Linked DNA regions of Homo sapiens. The protein of the gene in region 2 purifies or fractionates together with the protein of the main gene of each other region. This does not show direct contact. Each region holds a gene or a part of one and is shown on either strand. Other genes may lie near its edges.

What was found.
Region 1: the proteins of UQCRC2 (region 2) and PTGES2 purify together in Homo sapiens (affinity purification with mass spectrometry; 2 studies listed by BioGRID and IntAct, with this or other methods). This does not show direct contact.
Region 3: the proteins of UQCRC2 (region 2) and HADHB fractionate together in Homo sapiens (co-fractionation; 2 studies listed by BioGRID). This does not show direct contact.
Region 4: the proteins of UQCRC2 (region 2) and ATP5F1C fractionate together in Homo sapiens (co-fractionation; 2 studies listed by BioGRID). This does not show direct contact.

What each region holds. Positions count from the first base shown.
Region 1 is NC_000009.12:128,124,730-128,131,950, reverse strand, and holds the start of PTGES2 (prostaglandin E synthase 2), read left to right. Parts: upstream 1-4,221; 5' UTR 4,222-4,233; coding exon 4,234-4,512; intron 4,513-6,509; coding exon 6,510-6,707; intron 6,708-7,079; exon of another isoform or gene 7,080-7,172; intron 7,173-7,221. UniProt on the Homo sapiens protein: Isomerase that catalyzes the conversion of PGH2 into the more stable prostaglandin E2 (PGE2) (in vitro). The biological function and the GSH-dependent property of PTGES2 is still under debate.
Region 2 is NC_000016.10:21,976,593-21,984,650, reverse strand, and holds the end of UQCRC2 (cytochrome b-c1 complex subunit 2, mitochondrial precursor), read right to left. Parts: intron 4,105-8,058; coding exon 3,951-4,104; intron 1,564-3,950; coding exon 1,480-1,563; 3' UTR 991-1,479; downstream 1-990. Other genes in the region: PDZD9 (PDZ domain-containing protein 9), read left to right, coding at 1-384. UniProt on the Homo sapiens protein: Component of the ubiquinol-cytochrome c oxidoreductase, a multisubunit transmembrane complex that is part of the mitochondrial electron transport chain which drives oxidative phosphorylation.
Region 3 is NC_000002.12:26,268,446-26,276,703, forward strand, and holds part of HADHB (trifunctional enzyme subunit beta, mitochondrial isoform 1 precursor), read left to right. Parts: intron 1-1,507; coding exon 1,508-1,552; intron 1,553-5,205; coding exon 5,206-5,305; intron 5,306-8,258. UniProt on the Homo sapiens protein: Mitochondrial trifunctional enzyme catalyzes the last three of the four reactions of the mitochondrial beta-oxidation pathway.
Region 4 is NC_000010.11:7,791,177-7,798,176, forward strand, and holds part of ATP5F1C (ATP synthase F(1) complex subunit gamma, mitochondrial isoform L (liver) precursor), read left to right. Parts: intron 1-4,944; coding exon 4,945-4,979; intron 4,980-5,870; coding exon 5,871-6,002; intron 6,003-7,000.

The DNA.
Region 1 (7,221 bases), on a different chromosome or scaffold from region 2:
TAGCACTCATTTCCTGGGACCCTCACCACTGGGGAGCTTATGCAGATAAAATCTACCCTCAAACAAGAACATCTCACCAGCAGCTGGCGGTGGACAGGCAGGCATCCAGAGACTGGAGCAGATGTTTCTCAGCTCTGGCCAGTGAGTGCCCCTTGATCCCTGTGGCCCAGCCTGGAGCTTCCAGGGACCCAAGAGACCTTCCTTCCCAGGTTCCTTCTTGCTCTCCCTGCTCTGTCCTCTCCCCATGGCTGCCTCCCCTTGTGCCATGGCTCAGGGGGAATGTCCTTCCTATTCCCAATGGCCACCTTCTCGCCCTGATGGACACGTCTCCACCTGTTTCTCTGTGGAGTGTGAGCATCAGGAAACCCTCTGTGCTCCCAGCGAGGCTGCCGGTGAGTGGAATCTGGCTTTGGGAAGCATCTTGAGTGCAGGACACCAACAGCATCAGAAATTTCTGAACAGCACCTGCCTTCTAGCGTGTAACGAGGTGCCACAGGGAGAGCCCCAGTGCTTGGCACACTGTAGGCATGTAGCAGCTTTTCGTGGAACTAAGGGACAAAGGTGCGACTTGCAAGGACACAGTGGCTTTTCTTCTTTTAGGAGAGCCCAGAGGTGCTCCTTAGGCAGGCCAATAATGGGAGCTGAGTGAGGGGGAGGAGGAAGAGGGTGGCTTTGCTTCCCTGGGGTGGGGGGTTCTATTCCCTAATGGCCATTGGAAATCAGCATTCATACTTGGCAAGAAATAGCTAACCTCTACCTTGGGGAGCATAGGCTTGGAGAGGATGTGCCTACTGCAACCACTGGCTTTCAAAAGACTGGGCTTTCTTTGCTGATGCTGGATCAAACGTACTGAGACATGGCCACAGAAGCTCTGCTGCTTTATGGACATGAAAGGTGGGTGACAAAGCCCTGAAGAGGGGACTAGGGTATCCTAAATTCTGAAATCTGTCCCCAGATGCACAAGCCTCCACGTGGAAAAGGGAGAAGGACTGCTTGCATGGTGTACGGCCTTGGGTGCAGTGACGGATGGCGCACACCTGCCCCAGTGCCCTCCATTGAGGTTTGGAGCAGTGACCTCACCTCTGCACAGACCCACCTGCAGGGTGGGGGGATAGGACGGGGCTATCTCAAGTGTGGGGGGCACCAGGGCAGGGCACCTTGGAAGTATTGCCAGGATAACTAACTGAAGACCAGTGGTTAGGGCAGGGCAGCCCTGCCCCTGTTCTCTGTCCTGTCTCTCAGGAACTGGCGTGAGATGGGGAGATCAGGTGCACAGTGAGGGGCGTAGCTGTGGATTGAACATAGCATGGTCAGGCTTCTGTCTTTTATTATTTATTTATTCATTTATTTATGATATATCATAGTTGTACATACTTTGGGGGTACATGTGATACTTTGATACCTGTATGAAACATGTAATGATCAAATCAAGGAAATTAAGATCTTCATCACCTCAAACATTTATCTTTTTTGTGTGTGGGCGGCAAGCCACCCAGGCACCGAGGCAAGAGACAGAGGACACGAGCTCTTCCAGTATAATAAAATATAAAACAAGAATAGTTATACCAGATATAGATCTTAGATATGATTATATATGACTATCATTAATCATTAGTTTGTAGCAATTACTTTTTATTCCAATATTATGATAATCCTCGCTCTATAATCATAGCCTAGGAAAAACCAGGCCATACAGAGATAGGAGCTGAGGGGACATAGTGAGGTGTGACCAGAAGACAAGAGTGCGAGCCTTCTGTTATGCCCACACAGGGCCACCAGAGGGCTCCTTGGTCTAGCGGTGACGCCAGCATCTGGGAAGACGCCCGTTACCAGGCGGATCATGGTCCAGCAGTAGCAAAAGGTGTCAAGGAACAACACCTGCTACTTAGCAGACCGGGAAAGGGAGGGTGGGGGTCTCCCTTTCCCCGGGGGAGTTTAGAGAAGACTCTGCTCCTCCACCTCTTGTGGAGGGCCTGACATCAGTCAGGCTCGCCCGCAGTTATCTGGAGGCCTGTCTCCCTGTGATGCTGTGCTTCAGTGGTCACGCTCCTAGTCCGCCTTCATGTTCCATCCTGTACACCTGGCTCTGCCTTCCAGATAGCAGTAGTCAATTAGTGAAAATACTAATAGTCCCTGATATGCAGAAATAATGGCGTAAGCTGTCTTTCTCTTTGTCTCCTCTCCCTCTCTGCCTCCGCTGCCAGGCAGGGAAGGGCCCCCTGTCCAGTGGACACGTGACCCACGTGACCTTACCTATCATTGGAGGTGACTGACATTCTTTACCCTGCCCCTTCTGCCTTGTATCCAATAAATAACAGTGCAGCCAGACATTCGGGGCCACTACCGGTCTCCGCGCATTGGTGGTAGTGGTCCCCCGGGCCCAGCTGCCTTTTCTCGTCTCTTTGTCTTGTGTCTTTATTTCTACACTCTCTCGTCGCCGCACACAGGGAGAGACCTACCGACCCTGTGGGGCTGGACCCTACAGCGCCCTGTGTCACCTCGGCAGCTTAAGCACGTGCAACTGGTTGCTCTGTAAGCTGCTCACATTTGGCAAGGCTGCGAGGCCACACCAGCAAAGCCAGGTGGCTGGAGATGCTGACCCAGCAGAGCATCGCGCTCCCCGCCCCGGGCCAGACCCTCCTACTAAGCCCAGCAGGCCAAACACGGACCCGCCCCCCTCAAGTGCCTAGGTGTCCCCGGGGCCTGAACACATCAAGTTACATTTTGATGGAGTTAGAATCCGGAAAATCAAGAGTGTGGAAGATCAGGAGCAATTAATGTAAACAGGAGGAGGATGAAGCTGGGAGGAGCAGGAGCTAGCAAGCAGGAGCTAGCAAGCAGGAGCGTGAGAGTGGCGCTGGGAGAAGGCCTGGATAGGGATAGAGTAGAGCACAGAACATGGGGGTCACCCTCAACCACCCCTAAACACTCTAAGCTCGAGCAGTCCCTCAACTCCTGGTCTGTAAAGTGGCTGAAGGAAGTGGGTGGAGCAAAACCCATATGGGCGAGTGTCCCAGCAGCTGCCTCAGTTTCCCTATCTGTAAAACGGGGCTGGGGACCTGCAGCTCTCACGGGACTGGTTACCCGCTCGCGGGTGCTCGCCCTGCATCCGAGACAGCACCTACAACTCCAAACCCACTCGGGGCGGGTCGAGGTGGGCCCTTCGGTCCCTTCGAAGCCAACATCCCGATTCCCCTTCCCGGGAAGGCACCCCCGGAAACGCCAAGGTCGCTCCAGCAGTCTCCTCGGGTCACCCGCTTCCCCGAAGCCGTCGTCCTCGCCTTCCGCTCTCGTCTTCACCGGCATACTCAGGTCCCCGCTGGGGACTGACACTGCGGGCTCGGTCGCCGCAAGGACTGGAAGGAAGGTGGAAGATGCGGGGCGAAAGCGGAGCGAGAAGAGTGGGACGCGGCGGAGCAGCAGAGCCGGGACTCAGAGCTCCCCCCTCGCCCCGCCCCTCTCCCCGCCCACTCTGCGAGTCCCGCCCCCTCTCGGGCGCCGGGCGGGGCCATCCCGGGGCTGTCCGCGGAGACGCCTATGCGGTGGAGGCTCCGGGCTTCAGCTAGGGCGGGGGAGCCCAGCAGAAGGACCGAGCAGCCTGGCACCCCACTTTGCCATCCTCTCCCTGGAAATCTCGGGGTCGGCGGGCCGGCCGCTTCGCGTGGGCGAAATCAGAGACACGTGGTTTCCAAGGCCCCTTCGGGTTCGGGAAAATTTTATGGTTCGGGTCACAGTAGGAAGCGGACAATGAGGCGGGAGGGCAGAGAGAACCGCAACACCTGGTGCCGGGTCGGGTCGTTTCCGGGGCTTTCAGTGGCCGGAAGTCGCGGCGCCTGTACTGACTCTAGGAAGGGCTGGAGTTGTTTTGAATGGGCGCCCGTAAGAGAGGTGGGCAAGTACGTGTTACAGACGGCCACGCCGCCCTTTAGGCGGTCAAGGTGGGGCGAGGAGACGTTCGCCCCCCTGCAGTCGGCCGGGTCACTACCCAAGAGCCTTTGGAGGCGGAAGCATGGAACGGTCTGCAAACGTTCCCGAGCGGGCCTCTGCGGCTCTGGCGGGCGTTTCGAACTTGGGCGCCGGGCACACGCCCAGTCCCGAGAGCGCTGAGGGTTCCCTTAGCGTCGCCCTCACCCCGGCCAACCCGCGGGGCGCCAGAGTCCTGGCCCTTTAAACGCCGCGCGTGCCTCGGCGTCTTCGTTTCGCGCGCCCGCCCGCGGCGCCGGCGGAGCGAACATGGACCCGGCTGCGCGGGTGGTGCGGGCGCTGTGGCCTGGTGGGTGCGCCTTGGCCTGGAGGCTGGGAGGCCGCCCCCAGCCGCTGCTACCCACGCAGAGCCGGGCTGGCTTCGCGGGGGCGGCGGGCGGCCCGAGCCCCGTGGCTGCAGCTCGTAAGGGGAGCCCGCGGCTGCTGGGAGCTGCGGCGCTGGCCCTGGGGGGAGCCCTGGGGCTGTACCACACGGCGCGGTGGCACCTGCGCGCCCAGGACCTCCACGCAGAGCGCTCAGCCGCGCAGGTAAGGCCTGGCCCGGCCGGGGATGGGGATGCTGATCAGCGCCGAACTCGGGACTCCTGGGAACCCGCAGGGTCAGGAGTTGCCTCTGCCTGCTTGTGACCTTGGGCGAGTGACTTGGTCTGAAGTCTCCGAACCCTCTGTATTCTTTTGTGTAAAATAGGGGCACTCCTGATGCCTACTACCTGGAATTGTTCGAGTTCTCATAAAATCGTTCTTCTACCGTGGTTTTTTTTTTTTTTTTTTTTTTGGTTTGTTTATTTATGTTTTCGAGACAGGGTCTCGCATTATCGCCCAGGCTGGAGTGCGATCGCGGCTCACTGCAGCCTCTGCCTCCCAGGTTGAAGGGATCCTCCTGCCTCAGCCTCCCGAGTAGCTGGGACTATAGGCTCACCCCACTGCGCCCTGCTAATTTTTGTATTTTTTGTAGAGATAGGGTTTCACCATGTCGCCCAGGCTGGTCTCGAACTCCTGGCCTCAAGTGATCCGCCCACCTTGGCCTCTGAAAGTGCTGGGATCACAGGCGTGAGCCACTGCGCCCAGCCTTTACCATGTTTTAAGGAGACTTTTTTTTTTTGAGACGGAGTTTTTTTTTGCTCTGTTGCCCAGGCTGGAGTGCAGTGGCGCGATCTCGGTTCACTGCAACCTCCGCCTCCTGGGTTCAAGCAATTCTCCTGCCTCAGCCTCCCCAGTAGCTGGGATTACAGGCGCCTGCCACCCAGCCCGGCTAATTTTTGTATTTTTACTAGAGACGGGGGTCTCACCATGTTGGCCAAGCTGGTCTCGAACTCCTGACCTCAAATGAGCCACCCGCCTCGGCCTCCCAAAGTGCTGGGATTACAGGTGTGAGCCACGGAGCCCAGCCTCTACCGTGTTTTAAGACTTTTTTGATTAAGAGATGGGAGATCACAGGAAAGGGAAAGCCTTTTTCACTTTCCAAACGTTCATCATCCTCTCTCCCCACTGCCCCCAAATCCTAAGGCTGTGTATTTATTTAGTAGTAGTGGTGGTACCTTTATGGAACTGATGACTTAGACTCCAGGCTGAAACAGGAAGAGGTAGAAAGGTGCCCCCCCCAAGTGGTGACCCCCTAAGTGGTGGCCCAGCTGCCTTGAGACACTTTATACCTACCCCACACCTTGCAACTCTTCATTACTTGACTTCCCACCACCCGCCCACAGATGCTTATTTGCTGGACCAGAGGGAACAGAGGTGGGTAAAAAGGGCATGGAGTACTCTGTGTCTCCCTTCCTGCCTCCACGGTCCAGCTTCCCCTCTGAACACAGGGGGATGGTCTACAGTTGTGGCTTCCCGGCATGAACGTGCAGCAGGCTCCCCTGGGGGCTTTCCTGCGGAGCTTGCCACACGCAGGCCTTGGCTCAGATACCACCCTCCCCCTCGGATATTTGAGATAGACTTTGGCTGGAGGATCACATGAACCCCGGAGTTCAAGGCTGCAGTGAGCTGTGATCAAGCTACTGCACTCCAGCTTGGATGGCAGAGTGAGACCCTGTCTCCAGAGAAAAAAACAAGAAAGAGATTGGAGGTAGACCCCACTGGTGAACATGAGCCTGGGTGGTAGCCCAGCTCTGCCCCCAGAGGTCCCTGGGGTTAGAGGAGTGAGAGTGAACAAGTCAAGTTGAAACAGTTGTTCCATGTCTGTGGGAGTGGGGTGTATACCCTGGGGCTGTCTGGTGTCCCCTTGGGACTGGAGTGAGAAAAGAGGGGTCTGTCCAGTATGGGACAGAGACTAGAAGATTCCTCCTACACAACCTCGCAGCAAAGGGTGGGACTCCTGCTTGGGGACCGTGCTGGCCAGGGGCTTAAACCTGGGCTGCTGTCCAGTGCCTCCCTTTCCCCTACCGCCCCCTTCCATCTCTAGTTCCTCTTCCCGATGTTCTAGCGTCATTTCAGAAGACTCCTCTGGAAAACACCCTTGGGGGCAGGGCCTGGGCCTGGGGGTGCCAGGTCTAGAAGCCTTTTCCGTCTGCTGCCCGCAGCTCTCCCTGTCCAGCCGCCTGCAGCTGACCCTGTACCAGTACAAGACGTGTCCCTTCTGCAGCAAGGTCCGAGCCTTCCTCGACTTCCATGCCCTGCCCTACCAGGTGGTGGAGGTGAACCCTGTGCGCAGGGCTGAGATCAAGTTCTCCTCCTACAGAAAGGTGCCCATCCTGGTGGCCCAGGAAGGAGAAAGCTCGGTGAGCCCCAGGGAACCCCCTGCATCCTTCCTCCTTTCCTGGGTTGTCCTGGAGCGCCCCCTAGCCTGGCCTGGCTCTGCAGCCTGGGAAGGAACTTGTGATCCTTGTGCCTGTAAGGACTATGGGGGAAGTAGCTGCATACGGTAGATGCTCAATAAATGTAGGCTCTCTCCTTCCGTACCAAAACCAAACACCTGCTGGGTCTCAGGGAGGCAGAACACCACAGCTTAACAACATAGATTCTGAAATCAGCGATCTGGGTTTGAGGTGTGATTCACCCACTCACTAGCTGTGTGACTTGGGGCAAGTCACTTAGCCTCTCTGCGCTTGCTTGCTTCATGAGTCAACAAGGGACCATATTCTGGCTTGCAGGGACGGCAGATATGAAATGCCTGGCACAGTGCTTGGGGTCTAGTATGTAGCTTCCAGAACCCACCCTGCCCCTCTACCTGGGAGGCCAAATGGGTGAGTGGGCTGGGGCTTAGACCCCACGGCTTTCCCACACCTTCCTCCC
Region 2 (8,058 bases):
AAAATTGAGCTGGCAAAAGATGAATCTTTCACAAGCAGTGATGATAATGAAAATGTAGATTTAGATAAAAGACTTCAATATTATAGATATCCGTGGTCAACTGTGCATCACCCTGCAAGGAGACCAATATCCATCTCCAGAGACTGGCATGGATATAAGAAGAAGAACCATACTATTAGTGTAGGAAAAGACATTAATTGTGACGTGATGATTCACAGAGACGACAAGAAAGAAGTGAGGGCCCCTTCTCCATACTGGATAATGGTGAAGCAAGACAATGAAAGCTCTTCCTCCTCTACCTCCTCTACCTCAGATGCATTTTGGCTGGAAGATTGTGCCCAAGTTGAAGAGGGTAAAGCCCAACTGGTATCAAAGGTTGGTTAGCAAATCTGTGGTCATATGAGCATTTATCTTGCAGACACCCAAGTTTTGTGCCTCACCAGGCACAAGTTTGCTGTACTTATCAAGGACTGTCTGTAGACTCACCAATTCTCTTCTCTTATGACTGCGTTATAAAGCCTTTAGAGATGTTCTTCAACAGGATTATCTAAAGACTTCCTTGGGTTCTTGCAGGCCTCACAAATCTTATTTTCAGAATAAGACCCTCCTTTTTGAGAAGAATTTCTTTCTTTTAGAAAATGCCGTAGAGAAATCCAATATCAGAATGTCTGAACATAGTAGAGAATGTCACTTTATGTAAACACTACATTTTTCTTTAAATATTTAGTTTCTCTCTTTTTTTTGGTAAACTTCAAGTACTATAATTAAAATAACTAAGAGACATAATTCTTTGGCTAGTTATTCACATTAGAATTCTTTTTTTTTCCCCTTTTTAGCCCTTCTTTTACTGTAAATGTTGAATTGAGAGTTAATTATTTGGAAGAGACAGGATAGTAACAGATAAGGGAGAGACAGGAGATGAGAGAAAAACAAAACTCTGTCAATGAAGATAAATCAGACATAAAAAAATGAATGAATGGGAATATAGGATATGATTGATAGGAAATGTATGTTTTTTGGAAATAATTTTATTGCAAAAAAGGCAAAACAGGGGTAAAAACCAGACCATTTAGCTGTTGACACCCAAAATGACAAATTTTGAACTTGCTTTCATCTTAAACGCCACCAATAGTAATCTGGCACTATTTACCCCGATAGCCACTTAGCCTTAATTTTAATAGTTTCTGATGCTTCTATACTCAATAATTATATTCCTGTCTCCTTTAAAGCATCTAAAACAAAGATATCAGCACATAATAAATACTTGTTGATTAACTCATTGAGAAAAACGTAAGAAAAACACTTAAACAGAATGTTTTATTGACTTTAGGTCAGCTGGGAATAATTACCTGCATTTATGCCTTATTTTACCTCACTGGAAAAAAGACAAATGATATATTAGAGACTTCTGACTTTCATGTGTTTGCTGCTCTGGGCTGAGAGAACGTTCAGCTCTCTCCTGTAATGTGTGCATCAGTATTACAACTCATCAACAAAAGGTGTATGTCCCAAATTTCCACTTGCTGCCATTGACTTCTGGCCAGAAACAAACTTCTTTGCCGCCTTTAAAGAAACAAACAAAAGACAAAATTAACAAAAATAAAAATATATATCATCAAGCAGGCGAACTTATTTTGTCATTTCAAGAATTTATGGATAGGACATTCTTTTTTTTTTTTTTTTTTTTGAGGTGGAGTCTCGCTCTGTCACCCAGTGTGGAGTGCAGTGCTGCGATCTTGGCTCACTGCAGCCTCCGCCTCCCAGGTTCAAGCAATTCTCTGCCTCACCCTCCCAAGGAGCTGGGATTACAGGCATGTATCACTATGCCCAGCTAATTTTTGTATTTTTAGTAGAGACGGGATTTCGCCATGTTGGCCAGGCTGGTCTCAAACTCCTAGCCTCAAGTGATCCACTCACCTTAACCTCCCAAAGTGCTGGGATTACAGGCGTGAGCCACCAACCTGGCCTTCGATAGGACATTCTAAGCCAGCAATTACTATAATAGCTGTTGTGAAAATTAACTAGGAGATGGCTGGTGCTTTAATTTGGGACAGTGTGGGAGGAAAAGCTTAGCTGTTTCTCTGAAAGTCCCATTGTATGTGTAATGAACCAAGCAAGAGCAACACTGGTAAGAGGGTAGCTGTTCAAAGAGAGATAAGGAAAACAACACTGACACTGTCAAATAGAGTAGTGTGGCTTCAGGCAGGGATATACTTTCCTGTTTCGGTATTACAATGGCAAATAGTCTGGGTCAATAAAAATACATTGATTGTTAACTTAAAAGTAAAACTTGATACCCTAGAGGATTCTTTATGCCACTACTTCCAAGTTCAAAGGCTGGTTAAGTGTAGTATCATGAGTCAGGTGTAGGTGGAGCAGCAGCCCCCATATTCTGTCAGGCCAGCTTATCTTATTACTATGAAGGAGAGGTGGTGGTGGAAGCAGTCGGGTTGGGACGCACATAATGATAGGATATAAGATGAAGACAGCCATTTAAAAGAGTACCAAATGGGCTGGGCGCGTTGATTCACACCTGTAATCCCAGCACTTTGGAAGGCTGAGGCGGGTGGATCACGAGGTCAGGAGATCGAGACCATCCTGGCTAACATGGTAAAACCCCGTCTCTACTAAAAATACAAAAAATTAGCCGGCCGTGGTGGTGGGCACCTGTAGTCCCAGTTACTAGGAAGGCTGAGGCAGGAAAATGGCGTGAACCCGGGAGGCGGAGGTTGTACTGAGCCGAGATCGCGCCACTGCACTCCAGCCTGGGCAACAGAGCAAGACTCCGTCTCAAAAAAAAAAAAAAGAAGAGTATGAAATGACGATTGGGGCGAAGTGAAATCAAGTCAGGGTTACTATCTTAAAATAGCCTTGTCTCTTTTTTATTTGAGACAGGGTCTCACTCTGTTGCCCAGCCTGGAGTACAGTGGCATGATCTCGGCTCGCTGCAACCTCTGCCTCCCAGGCTCAAGCCACCTTCCCACCTCAGCCCCATGAGCTCCTGAGTAGCTGGGACTACAGGCGCATGCCACCAAGCCTAGCTAATTTTTGTACTTTTTTGTAGAGATGGGGTTTTGCTACATTGCCCAGTCTGGTATTGAACTCCTGGGCTCAAGCAATCTGCCCACCTCAGCCTTCCAAAGTGCTGGGATTACAGGAATGAGCCACTGCACCCAGCTTAGTTTTTTATTTTTTCTTATCCCCACTGTCCCTATACAAGGTAGACCTGTTGGTGAGAAGATGGCCGAGACATCTACAGTAGAAAGCAAGTTGGCAAGTTTAATGTAGAAAATGGGGAAAACCCACTTACTTTGGATTAATTCTGTAGGTCATGTGCTTGTTAGGCACAGCAGGGAACACAAAGAAGTACATGACATAGTCCTTGCCCTCAAAACAGCTCAATATTGTAGGGAACAATAATATATGTGAAAAAAAAATTAGCAAGAACAAGAGAATGTCCTAGGCTGAGAAGAGTAAAGAAAATCTTAAGATGCTAGATGGTGAAATATTGCTAGGACTGAAGAGGAAAAATAGCAAACTTCACTATTTAGGTTGGATCATATGAAACTGCTAATATTTGACTCTTCTTTACTTCTAGTCATCTAACATAAGCCCATTTTATAAACTACCATTAGTTTAACCTAACGTTTGATACGTTAGGTGTATTAAATGCACTTTTGACTGCCATCTCAGTGGATGGCAGCCCTCTTACTGACATCACAGTTTAACCTAATGGTAGTTTATTTGAAGGAGGAAGATACATATACTCGAGCTGACAGGGAAGCTTGTTGCGGATCTTATGGGAATGAGCCCTCCTGCCTCCACATTAAGTAGATGAGCACCAAACATAAGAATAATACACTGCCCAAGGACGCTTATGCATCCTTCTGAAATTGGATCATTAAGGTTAAGTTCTCTGTTGTTAAATCGTTAAGTTTTCATTTACTTACATTTATGATATCAGCATTAGCCACTGAATCAATCTGCTGAAGGACTGTGGATGGTGGCATGTAAGAACCAGCAACTAGAGCCTGGGACCCGACTTCTTCCAGGAAACACTCAGAAGACTCCACTGACATTAGGTATCCAGCTTTCAGCTTGTTCCTGTCCAATAAAAGGCAGAAGTCAGTTTTAGAGAGCAAGGCAATTATTTTTTTTTTCTGAGTGGTGGCGGGGGGCTGTGAACATCAAAGCTTTATTTAATGGATAGAGTAACAGCGTGTCTCCCTCTTCCTGAATTCCCCAAGAAGAATGCCACTCCCTTCTCTGGAACATACTAAAACAGTAAGTCTGAAGGGAAGAAGTCTCTTCAGGGTTGCCAAAGTGTCCAATTGAGGGCCCACTTTGGCCTCCATTTGTGGGTCCATATGCTGCTACAGATTTGAGTGAGACAGCTGGAGAGCTCCCTAATGCTTCCCAAGGCCTCTGGATCCGGTTGTGCAATCTGGATCCTCTGCATGTCACTGGCCAGTCGCAGCATGCTCTTTCTCCTGCCCACTGGCACAGTGAGGAAGATCTCTCTGCTGTCAGTGAGAAGGCTGTCATCCACTGAGATGGCAGTCAAAAGTGCATTTAATACACCTAACGTATCGAACATCATAGCTTGGCCCAGGTTATCTCATATGTGCTCAGAACACTTACAATAGCCTGCAGCTGGGCAAAAGTCTTCTAACATAAGCCCATTTTGTAAGGAAGCATTGATTATCTCATGTACTGCATATCACTAGCCTAGGAAAAGATCGAAATTCAAGGTATAGTCATGTACTACATAATGATGTTTTTGGTCAATGATGGACCACATATATGATGGTGGTCCCGTTAAGATTATTAGGGAGCTGAAAGATTCCTATTACTTACTGACAACATAATGTTGTAGTGCAATTTTAAAAAAATAAATTTAGCGTAGCCTATGTTTACAGTGTTTAGTATCTACAGCAGTGCACAGTAATGTCCCAGCCCTTCCCATTTACTCACCACTCACTCACTGACTCACTCGAAAGCAGGAGCTATGCCATAAAAATGGCATACCATTTTTTTATCTTTTGTGCTGTATTTTTACTGTACCTTTCCTATGTTTAGATGCACAAATACTTACCTTTGTGTTATAACTGCCTACAGTATTCAGTACTATAGTACATGCTATACAGGTTTGTAGCCTAAGAGCAATAGACTATACCATAGAGCCCATGTGTGTAGTAGGCTATACCATCTAGATTTGTCTGAACACTGAGGTTCACACAGTGATGAAACCACCTAACACCACATTTCTCAGAATGTATCCCCATCGTTATGTGACCCATGACTGGAAGCTGAAATTGCGATGGTTTTCCTCCATAGTCAAGTTGAAAAATTATAATTGATCCATGGCAAGTTGGGGACAGTGTATATTGTAAACCTACCTTTTGGCTGCTACAGTGTGAAGACCAGGGATCTTGAAGAGCCTTCTGTCAAACCAGGGTGTCAGGCCTGTACTTGGTGTCACCACAGACAACTCCACCTGGCCCACAGCTGGGGTCACAGTGTTATAAAGGTCACAGTCTTGACCTTTTCCTTTTGCCTTTTCCTTGTATGAAGTGGGTTCTCTTCTTGGATGGAGGATACCGTTCAATGCTTGTAGTTTGAAGATTCTCATGTTTATTTTCTTCTTATGCTATCGTTTCACTTGTATTACCTGTGAGTTTTGGCAGGTTTCGGGGGTGTCTGAAGAGCTTCTGCTGTCTGTTTATTTCTGTGATATCCACTTCAGCTGTTGCTGCCTCTTTTAGGGCCTGTTTGTTTTCACCAAGGGTGAAGTAGTCAAGCCAGTTCCTCTTACACAGTGAAACAGGGCAATTTTAAGGTATGTGCCCCGAAACTCAACATATTTTTGGTAAACAGGCAAACTAACAACTTACAGTGCTAATGGCCTCCATTCTATTTCTTCAGTTCACCAAGTACGTGAACCGTTTACGTTACTATTTGGAAAGCTGTCAGTACGAAATTATACTGAAAACTCCACAGATTGCTTTTTGATTTGGGACTAGAACTTAGATCTAGGTAAAACTATTTTAATGTAAGGTTTTGATTAGTGAAGCAACTCCTGCCTCTTGCTGAGATTTGTCTGTGAGCATAGGGTATGATGGAAAAGGCAGGTGGGGAAGGGCAGTACAGGTCTTGTAAGCAACGGCAGCTTAAATATGGGCACAAAAGCATCCACTTGAAATAAAACAAAATCCAATTCACAATTCTCCCAGAAACTTATTACTTATAGACATGGTGTTTGATAAGACAGTCGAGTTATTTGAACCTCAAACGTTTATCATCCTTTAACACTCTACAGAAAGACTTCCATTTAAACATAATTACAATTTAATGCTGCAGTTTTACCACGTTGTCAGCTTAATTAAAAAATGATTTTACCTGCAATAAACTACCAAGAGGTTATTAGTGTGTCCTTTCGGCAATGACACCTCACTTTCTCTCTTTCACTACAGGAAGAACTTACAAGAAAAAGTATCAACTCCATCAAAATGGCAGAAAACATACTTTGACATTAATATTCAAAATTCTACTTTCTGCTTATTACCATACCTTGTAAGAACTGTGTTACACTTATTAAGAAAATACGTTTTCTTAAATAAATTAGATTTGAAAAACTTAGGTTTTTCTTAAGTAAATCCAGTGTTTCAATGTATTCTCATCATGTTTTGTTTCTGGTACAATCAAGCAGCCCTGCATCCTATCGATTCTTGGTTCTATGTATACAATATTTAATAAATTGTGTTGTACTTATACAAGAGATGCAACTTTGTAGTGTGCTCAGCATAACAAAACTAACAATACTAATGGGAACAGAAATGACCAAAAGGTTGTTCCATCCTGGGTTGTAATTCTGCTTCCCCTGTGGGCAATACTAAATGATCATAACGACCACTGGAGTTGCAAGATTCACATTTTGAATTGTTCTAAGTAGATGGAGTCAAACTTAAATGTCTTAAGCGGCTGTATGAAAATGCAGGTTGATTTCCAACTTTGTCCCAAGTCTGTCTCTTTTAGAGAAACCCTCGAACTACTAATGAATTAGGAGTGTTGATAGCACTTTCAATCTGGACAGTGGGGATTTATAAATTGCCAAATAGCAGACAAGTATTTTAGTCTTTCTTATAAAACAAAACAAAATCAGATCTTTTTTGGGTATAAATTAGTTATGAAGAAAGAAACTATTGTAGAATAGGTACTCTTATATACTGGTGGTATGATTATAAACTGGTACAATCTCTTTAGATTTGTGACTTAGAAATACATTTTTTTTTTTTAAGAGACAGGGTCTTGCTCTGTTGCCCAGGCTAGTGTGCAATGGCGTGATCTTAGTTCACTGCAGCCTCAAACTCGTGGGCTCAAGCAATCCCCCCTCTTCAGCCTCCTGAGTAGCTGAGGCTACAGGCACACACTACCACACCTGGCTAGTTTTAAATATCTTTTTGTAAAGACAGTGTCTTGCCACATTACCCAGGCTGGTTGAACTCCTGGCCTCAAGTGATCCTCCTGCCCCAGCCTCCCAAAGTCCTGGGATTACAGGTATGAGCAACTGCGCCTAGTCAAATGTATTATTTAAACATACACACATACACACACTCTAACATGGAGTCTTTCGTTATGTTTATAACTCTTAACTTAGTTGGGAATCTACACCAAGAAAGTAATACGAAACACAAAAATATTTTAAGCCCAAAGATATCTTTATAACTGCAGAAAATGCACAAGTGTATTTTGACACACCAATGAATATTGTTTAAATTTTTAGTAATTTGAATCAATGGAAACAGAATCATTGCTAGGGAAATCAGAGATCATTTTTGTCTTTTATTTGTAATTTTCAAACTTCTATAATAAGGATGCTATTTAAATAAGATAAAAAAGTATACAGATGGTCCCTAACTTAACTTATGATGGTTTGACTTATGTTTGTTTGGCTGGATGACTGGGTTATTAGGGTATTAAATGCATTTTCGATATGCGCATTTCTCAGGACGTAACCCCAGTGTAAGTCAAGCAGCATCTATATATACAATATTAACA
Region 3 (8,258 bases), on a different chromosome or scaffold from region 2:
TTTATAGTGGAGTAAACTGGCAGACATCACTTGACCCAAATCATCACTTTAACATCACTGGTAGTAAGTCATGTTGATATCATGTGCCCCCTGATACGAAGCTAAGAGAAATACAGTTTACCTCTGTGATATTCTTCCCCTAAATCCATAACCCCAGTCTTCAAAAGTGTCAAGGTCATGAAAGACAAGGAAGACTGAGAAACTGTCACAAATTGGAGGAGACTGAGGAGGCATGACAACTAAATGCAACATGGTATCTTGGATTGAATCTTGGAACAGAAAAAGGACATTAGTGGAACAACTGGTGAGACTCAGATAGGTAGTAGCTTAGTGAATAGTATTGTGCCAATGTTCATTTCTTAGTTTTAATAAGTATATCATGGTTATGTAAGATGTCAGTATTAGAAAAAGCAGGGGAAGGCTGGGCGCGGTGACTCACGTCTGTAATCCCAGCACTTTGGGAGGCCAAGGCGGGCAAATCACCTGAGGTCAGGAGTTCAGGACCAGCGTGGCCAACATGGTGAAATCCCATCTCTACTAAAAATACAAAAAAATCAGCTGGGCGTGGTGGTGGGTGCCCGTAATCCCAGCTATTCGGGAAGCTGAGGCAGGAGAATTGCTTGAACCCTGGAGGTGGAGGTTGCAGTGAGCTGAGATTGCGCCATTGCACTTCAGCCTGGGCAACAAGAGCGAACCTCCGTCTTAAAAAAAAAAAAAAAACAGCAGGGGGAAAGAGGAACTCTGCTCTCTTTTTCCAATTCTTATTTATGTATTTACACAGGGTCTTGCTCTGCTGCCCAGACTGGAGTGCAGTGGTGTGATCCTAGCAGCCTCAAATTCATGGCCTTAAGCAGTCTTCTCACCTCAGCCTCCCAAGTAGCTAGGACTACAGATCCATGCCACCACGCCTGGCTAATTTTTAATATTTTTTGTAAGAGACAAGGTCTTGCTTGCTCTGTTACCCAGGCTGGTCTTGAACTCCTGGCCTCAAGTAGTCATATCACCTCAGCCTCCCAAAATGTTGGGATTCTAGGTGTGAGCCACCATGCTTGGCCTCTTTCCAATTCTTTGGTAAATCTCAAGTTACTTAAAAGCAAAAAGTTTCTTCAAAAGTCCTAATACATCACCTGTAGCCCTGTAGGCATTACAAAATAAATAAATAATATACTTTTAAAATAAAATGTTTAAAGGAAAAGAGACCTCAAAGGTGGGGCTTCACTTTAAAGAAAATTTAGCATATGTTATACTGAACATTAAGGTGTTGGACAACATTTTTGTTCGATTCTTAGCAAGCTCAGGAGGAGTTAAGGCTTGCTAGACTTTTAAGGATGACAAATAGCGAAGTCACACTATTTCTTCATTTGAAATGATGGACTGCCTTGGATAGTAAAGTTAAGTGTGTTTGTAGCAGCATGTGTTTGATGATCTCTGGGTATTTCAAATAGAATGAAAATTTTTCATTGAAGCTCTAGGGTTTTGGTTTAAATTACTGGTTTTCGTTCCCCAGATATAAAGACCTGATGCCACATGATTTGGCTAGAGCAGCGCTTACGTAAGTAAATGCAGTTTCATTTCCGTTCTTATTTCATTAAAGGCACTTTCTCCAGTTTTTACACATAAAATAGCAATTTGTTCTTATTTTAGCCATCTGTACTATACAAATTTAAGCAGCTTATGAATATTGTCAATCTTTATTTTGCAGGCCTAACAGTGTCTTAGCCTGACAGTATACTTTAATGCTACCTTAGCTAGCCACAGGACTCGATTGATCAGCCTAAACACAATACATATATTTGATGATTGCCTTAGGAACTTGTATAAGGGTAGCTGAACAGATTATGTAGATATTTACCTAGAAAGAAGCCTAAAAGACACCTGAAGATTCATGTGCAAACCAAGTAAAAATGTAAAATTAGATGTAGTTAAATAAGATTAGGCTGGATGAATAATTTGGTTGAGAATCATTAAATGTGTTGCTGTTTCATAACATGTAAGGCATTATCTCTTCATTTTCCACTGACACTTTGCCTTTGTGTCTTCAACCAGCCACAGTTCTTTCTTAGTTTGGAGAAACCCTTCAGTTGACCTTTCTGTCCATTCTAACTCTATGTTTGTTTTTTTTTTCTTCCTGCAATACCTCAAGCATGAGTGAAAGAGCAGTTGTTTCTGTTTCCTTATTATTAGTTTCCTCTGTCTAATTGTATAATCATTATTTCCATTTTCCCTTTGTTTTACAGAAACCATACTTTAGAATCTTCTCTTAATAATGGTTTTATGATTGCTCAATGTACTGATCCTTTCTCAGTCCTCTGTCTCTGTACTTTATAGCACTTGACACTGTAAGCTATAATCACCTCTCTTCTGTTGACTTCTTAGTAATATGCCTTTATGATTTTTCTTTTTCTTCTGTATCCTGACTGATTCTTCTGTAGCTTTTTTTTTTTTTTTTTTGAGACGGAGTCTCGCTCTGTCACCCAGGCTGGAGTGCAGTGGCGTGATTTCGGCTCACTGCAAGCTCTGCCTGCCGGGTTCACGCCATTCTCCTGCCTCAGCCTCCCGAGTACCTGGGACTACAGGCGCCTGCCACCATGCCCGGCTAATTTTTTTTTTCTTTTTTTTTTTTGTATTTTTAGTAGAGACGGGGTTTCACTGTGTTAGCCAGGATGGTGTCGATCTCCTGACCTCGTGATCCGCCCTCCTCGGCCTCCCAAAGTGCTGGGCTTACAGGTGTGAGCCACTGCGCCCGGCCGATTCTTCTCTAGCTTAAAAAAAAAAAACTGGGCCAAGCACGGTGGCTCACTCCTGTAATCCCAGCACTTTGGGAGGCTGAGGTGGGCAGATCACCTGAGGTCGGGAGTTCAAGACCAGCCTGACCAACATGGAGAAACCCCATCTCTACTAAAAATACAAAATTAGCTGGGCGTAGTAGCACATGCCTGTAATGCCAGCTACTTGGAAGGCTGAGGCAGGAGAATCCCTTGAACCTGGGAGGCAGAGGTTGCAGTGAGCCGAGATCACGCCATTGCACTCCAGCCTGGGCAACAAGAGCAAAACTCCGTCTCAAAAAATAAAAATAAAAAACCACACACACACACAACTGGATCTCTCCCTCTTTCTCTTTTTGAAAGGTGTTTTGCAAGTTTCATTCCTTAGAGCTTTGCATTTCTCTGTATGCATATTTTCCTTTAAAAATCTCATCTACTAGCTAGGCATGGTGTCTTACACCTATAATCCCAGCACTTTAGGAAACCAAGGCAGGAGGATCAAGGTAGGAGGATCTTTTGAGCCCAGGAGTTTGAGACCAGCCTAAGCAACATAGTAAGACTCCATCTCTACAAAAAAAAATTTTAAAAATTAGCCAACCAAGAGAATTCAGCTCAGGAGTTGAAGGTTGCAGTGAGCTATGATTCCACTACTAGACTCCAGGCAGGGCAATCGAGCAAGACTTTGTCTCAAAAAAAAAATTTTTTTTAAATTTTTAATTTATTTTTTTCTGTATGGAGTCTCACTCTGTCCAAGGCTGGAGTGCAGTTGCTTGATCATAGCTCACTGCAACCTCGAAGCCTCCCAGGTAACTGGGACTATAGGCGTAAGCCAATGTTTCTAACCCTCTTTTTAGTTTTTTTAATTGATAAAAAACTACAGATTTTACAGATTTTTATTTATTTATTTCATTGTAGCCAAGTTTAGTCATTACTCATTTTGAAGCTCAGCTTATTCCACATTTTATCTGGCACTCCTTCAAGTTGGCTCCTGTGTGCCTTTTGTTTTTTAGTATAATGCTGGTTGTTGATATATAATTTGCATGCAATAAAGTGCACAGATTTTAAGTGTATAGTTTGATGAGTTTTGACAAATGTATATACCCCGTGTTCCTGTTTTTGATATGGTCCCATTTGTCTTTTTTTTTTTTTTTTGACACAGAGTTTCGCTCTTGTTGCGCAAATTGGAGTGCAGTGGCACGATCTCGGCTCACTGCAGCCTCCGCCTCCCAGGTTCAAGCAATTCTCCTGCCTCAGCCTTCCGAGTAGCTGGAATTACAGGCACATGCCACCAGTCTTGGCTAATTTTTTTTGTATTTTTAGTAGAGACGGGGTTTTGCTGTGTTAGCCAGGCTGGTCTCGAACTCCTGTCCTCAAGTGATCCGCCTGCCTCGGCCTCCCAAAGTGCTAGGATTACAGGCTTAAACCACTGTGCCCGGCTGATATGGTCCCATTTGTCTTTGAGTGCTTCCTTACTTTTGGCACAAAAAAGATGGAAATTCACTTTGTACTTTCTTCTGGACCTGGTATCAGTCATTTCTTAAAAAACCTTTTGTCCTTTTAATGGGGAATGGCATTTAGAAACCAAATCTGGGGCCGGGTATAGTGGCTTACACCTATAATCCCAGCACTTTGGGAGGCCAAGGCTGGTGGATCACTTGCAGTCAGGAGTCCGAGACCAGCCTGGCTAACATGGTGAACCCTGTTTCTACTAAAAATACAAAAATAAGCCAGGCATCATGGCAGGCGCTTGTAGCCCCAGCTACTCAGGAGGCTGAGGTGAGAGAACCACTTAAACCCAGGAGGTGGAGGTTGCAGTGAGCCGAGATTGTGCCAGTACACTCCATCCAGCCTGGGTGAAAGGGCAAGATTCTTATCTCAAAAAAAAAAAAAGGAAACCAAGTCTGGGTTCAGGGAGTGCTCATTCCTACTGGAGTGTTATTGTGTCTAGTTTCTATTCATGGGCACAACTAGAATATATGTATTATTTCAATCATTTGTTGATACTGATATTTCAAACTAAAATTTAACATACCCAGGACTTCTTTTTTTTTAATTTTTTTTAATAGTCTTAAGGGAGACTTTGCTTTATCTCTTTGATTGAATATTTGTCTCTCTTTTTCACTGCAAACTTTGGTTTCTACTAACATTAATTAACATTAATTTATAGGTTTCTTATCTATTTTATTCTATTCCAAATTATTTTTTATTCTCTAACTTCTCATTACCAATTCAGCATCAAATGTTGACTTTTAAAATCACTCTTTCATTCATTTCTTCTTTGAGAAGGTGCCAAATGCTTGTCAAATTAAAGAAAAGATACAGTCTCTGTCCTTTTAAATTCAAGGCTAACCTTTTTCAAGGAGCGCAGTGTTTTGTGTGATGATCTCTGGCACTGCCTTGATGTGTGAAATGTTTCTTTGCTTTGGATTTCTACTTCCAGGGGTTTGTTGCATCGGACCAGTGTCCCTAAGGAAGTAGTTGATTATATCATCTTTGGTACAGTTATTCAGGAAGTGAAAACAAGCAATGTGGCTAGAGAGGTGAGTAAAACAAACTTTATGTTGTTTAAAGAGTGATAGGAGAATCACTTTGAATTTCAATTAATAGAAGTTACTTTACAAAAGCCTTTAAAATCTATTGAGTTACATTTGACCTAAAATGTGATTTTACAGCTTGGGTAATGTGTTATTTAATATGTAAAAGAATTCTAATATAAATCAAATGACATACACTATATTAGTGTATATCCATACTTTACTGTAAATCAAATAAATTATTTGAGCTGGTTTAGGACATTGTCTCTTGTGTTAGGAAAATAGAGATCAGCAAAGTGTGGCTGATAGTATTTTTAGTAATGTTAGATATCATGGCTTCCAATTAATTTAAAATTTCAACATGTTGCAGAGAACTAATTTCATAACTTGACTTTTGTTAGCTGGAAGTAGCCTTGCTTACTCATTTGTTCCCATCAACTAGATGGCACGTAAGGCAGCTTGGCTTTTTAAAAACTATTTCACAGGAGTTTACTTTTGCCCTAGTTGGCATAGCTCCATGTAGTGTCGATTGGGCAACCAAGATAATGACAGGCCTTGGAACTTCTAGGATGTGTCCTACAGGCAAATCCAAACACGTCTTCTGGGCTGTGTTTTCATTTAAAATCGATTGGATGAAGTTGGCACCAAAAGCACATTTCATTGTACTCAGTATTTTCCCTAGTTCTGGTCTGTGCTTGCCATATTGTTGGGTTCAGTATCACTGTCAACTGAGAGACAAGGGCACATGAGCAGGACTGAAAGTATTTGTTCTGTTCCACCTCTGTACCTGGCAGAAATGTTAGAACTGCCAAAGGCCTGGCATGACTGAAGCCTACGAAACTAACTGTGTGCTGTTGAGGGGCAGGAAGGAATTAACAATAGGAAGAGATTTTATTTCCCTTCTGAAATTTTTTGTTTTTCCTTGAACCTTGACATTTCTGAATGTTTCAAATATGATAATTTCATGAGTACATCAAGCTGCTCATAATACATTTTCAACTTTTATATTCTGAAAATAACCTATTACTTTTATAAGAGCACTTAAGATGTAAATAGTAAATTTTTTTGCTGTTTTCTCCTCTTGCTCAGCTTTTTATCCCATCCTTTCTTCCTTCTCCTCCTCCTCAAAAAATAAAAAAATAAATAAATAAAAATAAATGTTTCCATTTTCTCTGTAATTCAGTTCTTTTTTTCCTAAAACTAAAGCCATAATGTTTTCCTCTGAAATTTTTCCTGGAAATTTTACATCCATTTGCAGATCTCAGCTATTGATTGACAGGAGGTAGATTCCCTCTGCCTGCCCTGTACTAATACCAGTTATGTTGTGCTCCAGGTAATTTTTGCAGCATCTGCAGGGAGAGATTGGGTTGAGGGGGATACATTATGAGAATGTCACTCTAAAGCTGTATTGCAACCTAAAAGCTAACATAATTTCCAGCCAAAGAATTTCTTAGGCCCTATTGCCTGTATTAATAATGTTAATATACAGTCCTTGCAACCTAAAAGCTAACATAATTTTCAGCCAAAGAGTTTCTTAGGCCCTATTGCCTGTATTAATAATGTTAATATACAGTCCTAAAAGGCTCCTGGTGTTCATGAACCTGACTTTGTTGAAAGGTTCAGCATATTTCCCTGTTCTCCAGCTTAAAGACATCTTCCTCCTTTTCCCTTAGTGCCCTGAGAGCTATTCAAATTTCAATAGAAGTGTGTGGACAAGGGTCACCAATAGCCACCTCTATTTAAAGCTCCTTCCGTCCTGAGAGTCATCTAGGGCCAAGGGCAACACAAATTAGAAAGGCCCTTGTGAGAATCGAGCCATTGCAACCTAAGTGCCCCTTTTACACTTGCCCTTTGCAGAGCTCTTCCCTCCTGCCCCCCTGAGATACTTGCGTCTCTCTTCCTTTCGGATTGGTTTACGTTGAGAGGCTGATGCACAGGTGCCTGGCAGAAGTTCTCAACAAAGCAGGTTGGGCATTTAGTATCAGGCCTACCTGGAAAGACCAGAATGAGGTCATGTTGCAGTTACATCACTAACACATTTCTGTTTCTATAGATTATGGTAAATAGCATAAAAGTAAGTAAGTATAAAGGTAAAAATCAGTTAAGAGACATTGAATTTCTAATTGAGACTTTGGAAACATTTATTTTACTAAATTATAGGAGAGTGTGTTCTGAGGATAATTAATAGTTTCAGGGAAAGAATACTAAAAATGAATTCCCTATAATGGGATCCAGTATTTCATAGTAAATATTGTGTGGGTGTGTATGTGGGAGGAAATCTGGAAGCTTTATTTCTAAAGTAAAACTTTAATATTATAAAAATAAGTATTTTATAATTGCACCTGTGCATTAATTATTTACATAAACAAAAATGGAATCAGACGTTGATTGGTTTTTGACAGCATAATTTCCCCCAATAAATAGTATAATAAAATTATAGATGTGCTCATTTCATGTTTGACTTTCACTGTGCCATTATAATAGAGGCCATTTTTAAAAGATTAATAATGACCTCAGTTTTTCTTAAAGCCGCTCAGATGACAAATTATTCTCTTTGTATCACGTATTATGCCATCATCCTGGCCACTTGTTAGTTGGTCTGACCCTTATTTGTTCACAGACTCACTTGTAACTCAGGCAATTCTCCAGTTTCTTTCATTGAGTTGAGCTTCTGTATAGTTGGCAAGTTTTCCAGTTCATCTTTGCATTGGGTCTGCAGTGTGCTATCTGAAGTATCAGACGGTCAGTAAGAGAAACCAGCTGGCAGTGAGCAGAAAGATAGGTGTAAAGCAGACAGGGTCTTGAGTGGGAACTCTGTTTATGAAGGGTCAGTTCTTTAGAAATCATTTTCATGTTTAATCACTTTTGCTTTGCTGCTAAGCTTTGTGACTGATCATGAGACCTGATAACACAGATAGTGAGGACTCCACCCCATAATATATTTCATCATCATTCCAGC
Region 4 (7,000 bases), on a different chromosome or scaffold from region 2:
GTAGTCCCAGCTACTCGGGAGGCTGAGGCAGGAGAATTGCTTGAACCCGGGAGGCGGAGGTTGCAGTGAGCTGAGATCGTGCCACTGCATTTCAGCCTGGCGACACAGTGAGACTCCATCTCAAAAACAAAAAAAAAAAGATGATGCAGTCATGGGTGTGGGTTAGGTAAGTGTGAAGGAGTCAGTTTTTGCTGGTGGCAGGTAATGGACTTTTACACGCTTAATATCAGAATTAGAGTCACTTCATAATTTTCGTTGAGAATTAGCCAATATTGCTTGCTTTTTAAGTTTTTATGTATCTTAATATACTCCTTAAAAATCTCTCAAACAATAGTTTCTTGGAAGGGTGTCATTCCTGACTCCCTCCTCCACTGCCTTCGTCAGCTGTTATAACAGCGCTGTGGAATCATGGTAGATAGTGGTAATCCACGGTCCATTTGATTCTCCCTCCACTGTGTTTCTTAGTCTCCCGAGGATCTCAGGACGTGCAATGATTCAGAGCTTTATCTCCTCATTTGCAAAACTTTTATATTTAATAAAGGAAGCTATCCCTAAAGAGAGTTCAATTAGCTCATCACTGTTCTTACTCAAATTGTACCTAACAATTAAAGTAGTAACATAGACGTCTTCAGAATTAAATGAAAGCTAAACATGAGAGTGCTTTAAAACACATGAAATTAGGGCAAATGCGTAGCATTATCACAAAAGATGCTACCTCTTCATACCTCTGACTTGGAGTACTTAAGGAAACCAAAACATTCTGTGTTTGTCCAAATATGGTATTCAATTCAAATTTATACCATATGGTATTCTCTGACTAGAAACTTGTGTCAGTTGAAGTGTCTGCCTAAAACAATAATATCCAAGAGTGACTTGTTATAACCAATAAATTTTGTGTTCAGGGAGAAAAGTCATTACTACACCAAAAAAGGAAGGTTGACCAAAAACTGGTATTACTTTTCAAGTGTGATTATGAAAAGCTGTTGTAGTAGAACAGTCATGGCAGGTAGTTTGTGCTCTGAAATAACAGAGCTTGTCAGGATTTGCCAGCTTTTATCTTTTCCTTTAGTAGATTCATTCTTAAAACCAAACCTAATATTTTTCGTGCTGTAGTGGGAGAATCACCTGAGCCCAGGAAGTTGAGACTGCAGGAAGCCATGATCACACCACTGCACTATAGCCTGGGTGAGGGGAGTGAGACCCTGTCTTCAAACCGCAAAAAACAAAGATCCACTCTTTTTGTTATACAGTTCCACGGATTTGGACAAATGCATAATGACATGTATCCACCATTACAATATCATGCCAAAGAGCTTCACTGCCCTAAAAATCCCTCCTCTACTCTCCCCAAAACCCTGACAACCACTTCTCTCAACTATTGCTAGATCCTCGGCTTTTCTGGCATGTCACATAGCCAGAATCATACAGTATTTGCTTTTTTTCAGATGGCCTTCTCTCCCTTAGCAGTATGCACTTAAGGTTTCTCCATGCCTTTTTATAACTTAATAGCTCCTTTGTGGTTTTGGTGAATAATAGTCCATTGTATGGATGTATCAGAGTTAGATTATCCATTCATGTATTGAAGGACATCTGGGTTGCTTCCAACTTTTGGCATCATGAATGAAGCTGCTTTACATGCTCTTGTGTAGGTTTTATGTGGACATAACATTTCATCTCAGTTGGGTAAGTTAAGACTAGGTTTAGGTTTGTAAAAAGCTACCAGAACATCTTCCCAAGTGGCTGTGTACTATTTTACATTCTGCCAGCCATCAATGAGAGTTCCTTTTGCTCCACATCCTCATCATCATTTGCTGGTCAGTTTCTTGGGTTTTATCCATTCTTGCAGGTGTGTAGTGATATCTTACTGTTTTAACTTGCAGTTCTCTAATGACATGATACTGAGCATCATCTTATGTGCTTTTTGCCATCTGGTTGGTTTTTGTTTTTGTTTTTTGAGACAGAGTCTTGCTCTGTCATCCAGGTGGAATGCAATGGCACGATCTCTGCTCACCACAACCTCCACCTCCTGGGTTCAAGCGATTCTTCTGCCTCAGCCTCCTGAGTAGCTGGGATTACAGGTGCCCACCAGCACGCCTGGCTAATTTTTTGTATTTTTAGTAGAGACGGGGTTTCACCATGTTGGTCAGGCTGGTCTCGGAACTCCTGACCTCGTGATCCGCCTGCCTCGGCCTCCCAAAGTGCTGGGATTATAGGCGTGAGCCACCGCACCTGGCCCTGCCATCTGTTGATCTTCTTTGGTGAAGTTTCCAGATCTTTTGCCCATTTTTTTTATTTGGGTTGTTTGTTCTCTTATTGCATTTTAAGAGTTGTTTGTTTTGGATACAAGTCCTTTATCAGAGATGAGTTTTAGAAATATTTTCTCCCAGCCTGTGGATTGACTTTTCATTCTCTTCACAGTATTTTTCACAGGACAGAAGTTCTAAATTTCAATAAAGCCCAACTCATTTTTTTCTGTCATGGATCATGCTTTTGGTGTTGTGTTTAAAAACTCATTGCCAAACCCAAGGCACCTGGATTGTCTCCTGTGGTATCTTGTAGAAGTTTTATGGTTTGGCATTTTATATTTAGGCCTGTGATTCATTTTAAGTTAATTTTTATTAAATTTGTAAAGTCATTGTACAGATTAATATTTTTGCATATTAGTGTCCAGTTGTTCCAGTGCCATTTGTTTGTTGAAAAGAATATCCTTTTTTCCTTGAATTGCTTTTGCTTTTTTATTACTGTAACTTTAGAGGAGGTCTTAACGTCAGGTAGTGTCAGTCCTGACAATATTGTTTGACTTTTCTAGGTCTTTGGCCTTCCTATATAACCTTGAAAATCAGTTTATTGATATCCACAAAATAGATATCAACTAAAATCAAACTTGCTGAGATTCTAATGGATTTTTAAAATTGTAAAACACATGGAACATGAAGTTTATCATTTTAACCATACAATTGTGTGCGGGCATTTTTAACTTCATACTCCAGTAGTTCAGGGCTGCTGCAGAGGAATGCAACTAGCTTTTTATATACACTAACCTTATATCCTGCAACCTTGTCATAAATGCTTATTGGTTCTAGGAGGGGCTATTTTTATTCTTTGGGATTTTCTACATAGATAATCATGTCATCTATGAACAAAAACAGTTTTATTCCTTCCCTTCAAATTTCTATGCCTCTTATTTTCTTGTCTTACTGCATTAGCTAAGACTTCCAGTATGATACTGAAGAAGAGTGATGAGTGGGGATTTCCTTGTCTTGTTCGCAATCTTATGGGGAAAGCTCCTAGCCTCTCCCATTAAATCAGAGATTTTGTGTGTTGTTTTTTTTTTTTTTAGCAGGTTGAGGAAGTTCTCTATTCCTAGTTTGCTGAGAGACTTTTTCATGACTGGGTGTTAGATTTTGTTGGATGCTTTTTCTGCACCTATTGATTGTATGATTTTTTCTTTAACCTGTTGACGTAATAGATTATATTATTTGATTTTTTAATATTGAACCAGCTTTGCATACCTGGAGTAAATCCCACGTAGTGATGGTGTATAATTATTTTTAATACATTGTTGGATTTGATTTGCTAATACACTGTTGAGGATTTTTGCCTCTAACCTATGCTCATGAGAGATATTAGTCACTGTCCACCAAGGTCATTCAATTAGAGAAACCTTAGATCATTCTTACTGCTTTCCTTTCTACTACGAATGTACATGTGAAGAAGTTAAATGCTTGCAAATCTAGTCTCCTATTGCTTTGCCAGCATCTTCATCCAGGTTCTTGAGGTCTCTCCTGAGGCTGTGGCAGCCTACATCCCCATGTCTTCTGTGTTCATCAAAACTCCAACCTCATTTTACGCTTGTCACTGCCATGTGAGATACTTTGCTGAAATACTAAACTGATTTGTGGGCTTATAAACATTCATTTCCCTATTAACCTACAAATAAGATTTAAACCAATTTGCTTTTTTTGATATTTAAAAATATTAATTATTTAAAGTAACAAACCCAACTCATGTGTCCAGTTTCCCCTTCTCCATTTCTCACTCTTTCCTGATCATGAATGCTCTTAAAATGACATTCTGTTCCCGAGAATCCCCTCCTCACATCTCTACTTTGTGCACACATTTCATCATGCTCAGTTCTCCTGTGTAGCTTTGCCTGCAAACACAGGCACTTTGTATGGATTTGAAGGCAGAAAGATCATCTAATATTTTTTAGCATGTCTTCCCCCATTAGGCCAGGAATTCTCTCATATTCATCTTTCACCAACATTTCATTTAAGCCTAATCATTTTGACTTCTGCACATTAGCATTTCAATTTTAAAGACTTGAAAAAAAATACTAAATGTTATGTAAATGTAATTTTTTATGAACCTTGTTTACAAGGTAACAATATGTCAGAGACCATGTCGTGTTTACCAGTGCCTGGAATTTAGAGCATCTTGGTAAATGTTTATTGAGCTAAATTGAAAAAGTTAAGAATCAGTTTATATAAACTACTTTTACACGTGTAGTCATGTTCGACTATATCATTGACTCTGTTACTGGAAGAGGTTGCTGTGAACTAAGGAAATTTTTAGAGTGGCTGGCCTTGATTCGAAGTATAGTTGGGCAGCTTAACAAGGGGAGGGGCTTTTCTGTCATGGAAACAAGATAAGCAAAGATATGGAGGTGGGACTAGAGCATGTGTGAGTCAATAGAGCATGTTGACTTCTGGGAAGGTGGTGGTACAGACAGGCCAAATAAAAGGAGGCCTTCAATACAGGGATTTGCGCCACTACTAAGGGATTTAAATATATGTCTATTCATATACATTCTGAGTCCTGTATTTGATAGATTGTTTCTTTATGGGGTATTCTTTAAATAAATATATATTAACTGAAAGTTTTTCTTGTATAATGGAACTATTTTTCAAAAAACTGAAACATTTTTAAAACTTTTATCCTCAGGATTCAAGTTCGAAATATGGCAACTTTGAAAGATAGTAAGTATGTTGTTTGTCTCAATATGTGAATTGAGAAAAACTAAATTTTGACAAATACAAATACTTTCAAAAATATACTGCTTTAGCCCATTGTGTATTTGATCAAAACTGACCAAATGGATTTCCATTGTATGTTTGGGACATTGGACTTGTTCTGAAAAGACCAGTAAGAAAGGACACCTGAGACAGCTATGTTCTGTTGTTTGTAGAATGATCATGATATAACTAGAAAAAATTATACCAGTGTTGGTGTAGGTGGGTGTATGTGTGGGAAGGGGTAAATCATGTTATATATAAATAATGTTATGGAATATGTGGTTAAGGCAACTTTCAATACCATTTAATGTTTTAAATGTATATTATTGTCTTATGTTGCCATTTGCTTGTCCTAAGTAGTAGCTAGTTTTGCCTTCCTTTTATTAGTACTATTTCTATTTTTTTTTTTTGGAGATGGAGCCTCATTCTATCACCCAGGCTGGAGTGCAGTGGCGCCATCTCGGCTCACTGCAAGCTCCGCCTCCCGGGTTCACGCCGTTCTCCTGCCTCAGCCTCCCGAGTAGCTGGGACTACAGGCGCCCGCCACCACGCTCGGCTAATTTTTTGTATTTTTAGTGGAGACGGGGTTTCACCGTGTTAGCCAAGATGGTCTTGATCTCCTGACCTCGTGATCCGCCCACCTCAGCCTCCCAAAGTGCTGGGATTACAGGCGTGAGCCACCGTGCCCGGCTATTAGTACTAGTTCTAATATTAAGACTGGTTTAGCATCGTGCTGTTTATTGTTTATCTAAGCGCTCATTATTCTGCCTTGCACTTCAGAAAAATATGTCAATAAATTCACAAGGAAGTTATACTGTAATTCCTTTGTCTTAACACAGTACTTCTATTTTTCAGTCACCAGGAGACTAAAGTCCATCAAAAACATCCAGAAAATTACCAAGTCTATGAAAATGGTAGCGGCAGCAAAATATGCCCGAGCTGAGAGAGAGCTGAAACCAGCTCGAATATATGGATTGGGATCTTTAGGTAAGGGAAGAGTGTAATTCACAAATTAGGAAGAACTGTTTCACACAAGGAAGACTACTGATGACTTACATTTAGAGCTTACAGTGATGTCAAGCCTATCTGAGCACTTGCCATGTACTTATTTTTCATCTACATCCACTTGACACGTAATGATAACAACCCGTGTAGGTAGTACAGGTAGGGACTGTTAGAATCCCTGCTTTCCAGTGAGAAAAACTGAAGCACACAGAAGTTAAGTAACTTGCCTAAGATCACATATAAAAGGATGAAGAGCCTCTGTTTGGACCTATGTGGTTTGGTGTCGAGTCTGTGTATTTGTTAGCCATTATACGTGACCATGTTAACTTTTAAAATATTCTGAAATGTTCCCAGTTGTTAAGTATACCATCAGAAGAACTTGGAAACCGTGCGTTAGATGTAAGGGCTTAATTTCATCCTATGACCTTGTAGTGTGGCATTTTAGGACTGCAGCGGGGGCGGGTGAGGGGCAGTGCAGTGGAGAGCTGGCCTTGTGGTCATGGATATGACTCATGATGGTGTTTTGAGAATCCGAACGATGTTGAAGCAGGAAAAGCAGCTGAGAACCTCCATTTTCAAGATACTTAATCACCATTCTTATCTTTTCAAAAGCATGAAGACATTTTTCCTTCAGAAATTTATGTAATCCATCCTTAATTAGTCTTCTTAATGGAAAAGAGATGAGATATGACAGTTTAAAAAGAATTTATATTGTGTTTTTAGATGCTTTTATACTTGTTTGATTATGAATTCATCTTGGAAATAAAGTTGTAAAGAGCTGGAAATGGGAAAGAAGTTTCTATTTTAACTTGTAATTACATTCTTTCTCTTAACTTTTTTATGATCATGCTGTCTTATCCTGAGTTGAGGCTATCTAAAAGAATTTTTAACTTAAGGAAGATTTATGCATATTTGATAGTAAAGAAGATCATGCAGTGAACCCCCTATTTATCTACCAAATCCTCAGTATCTCAACTGAC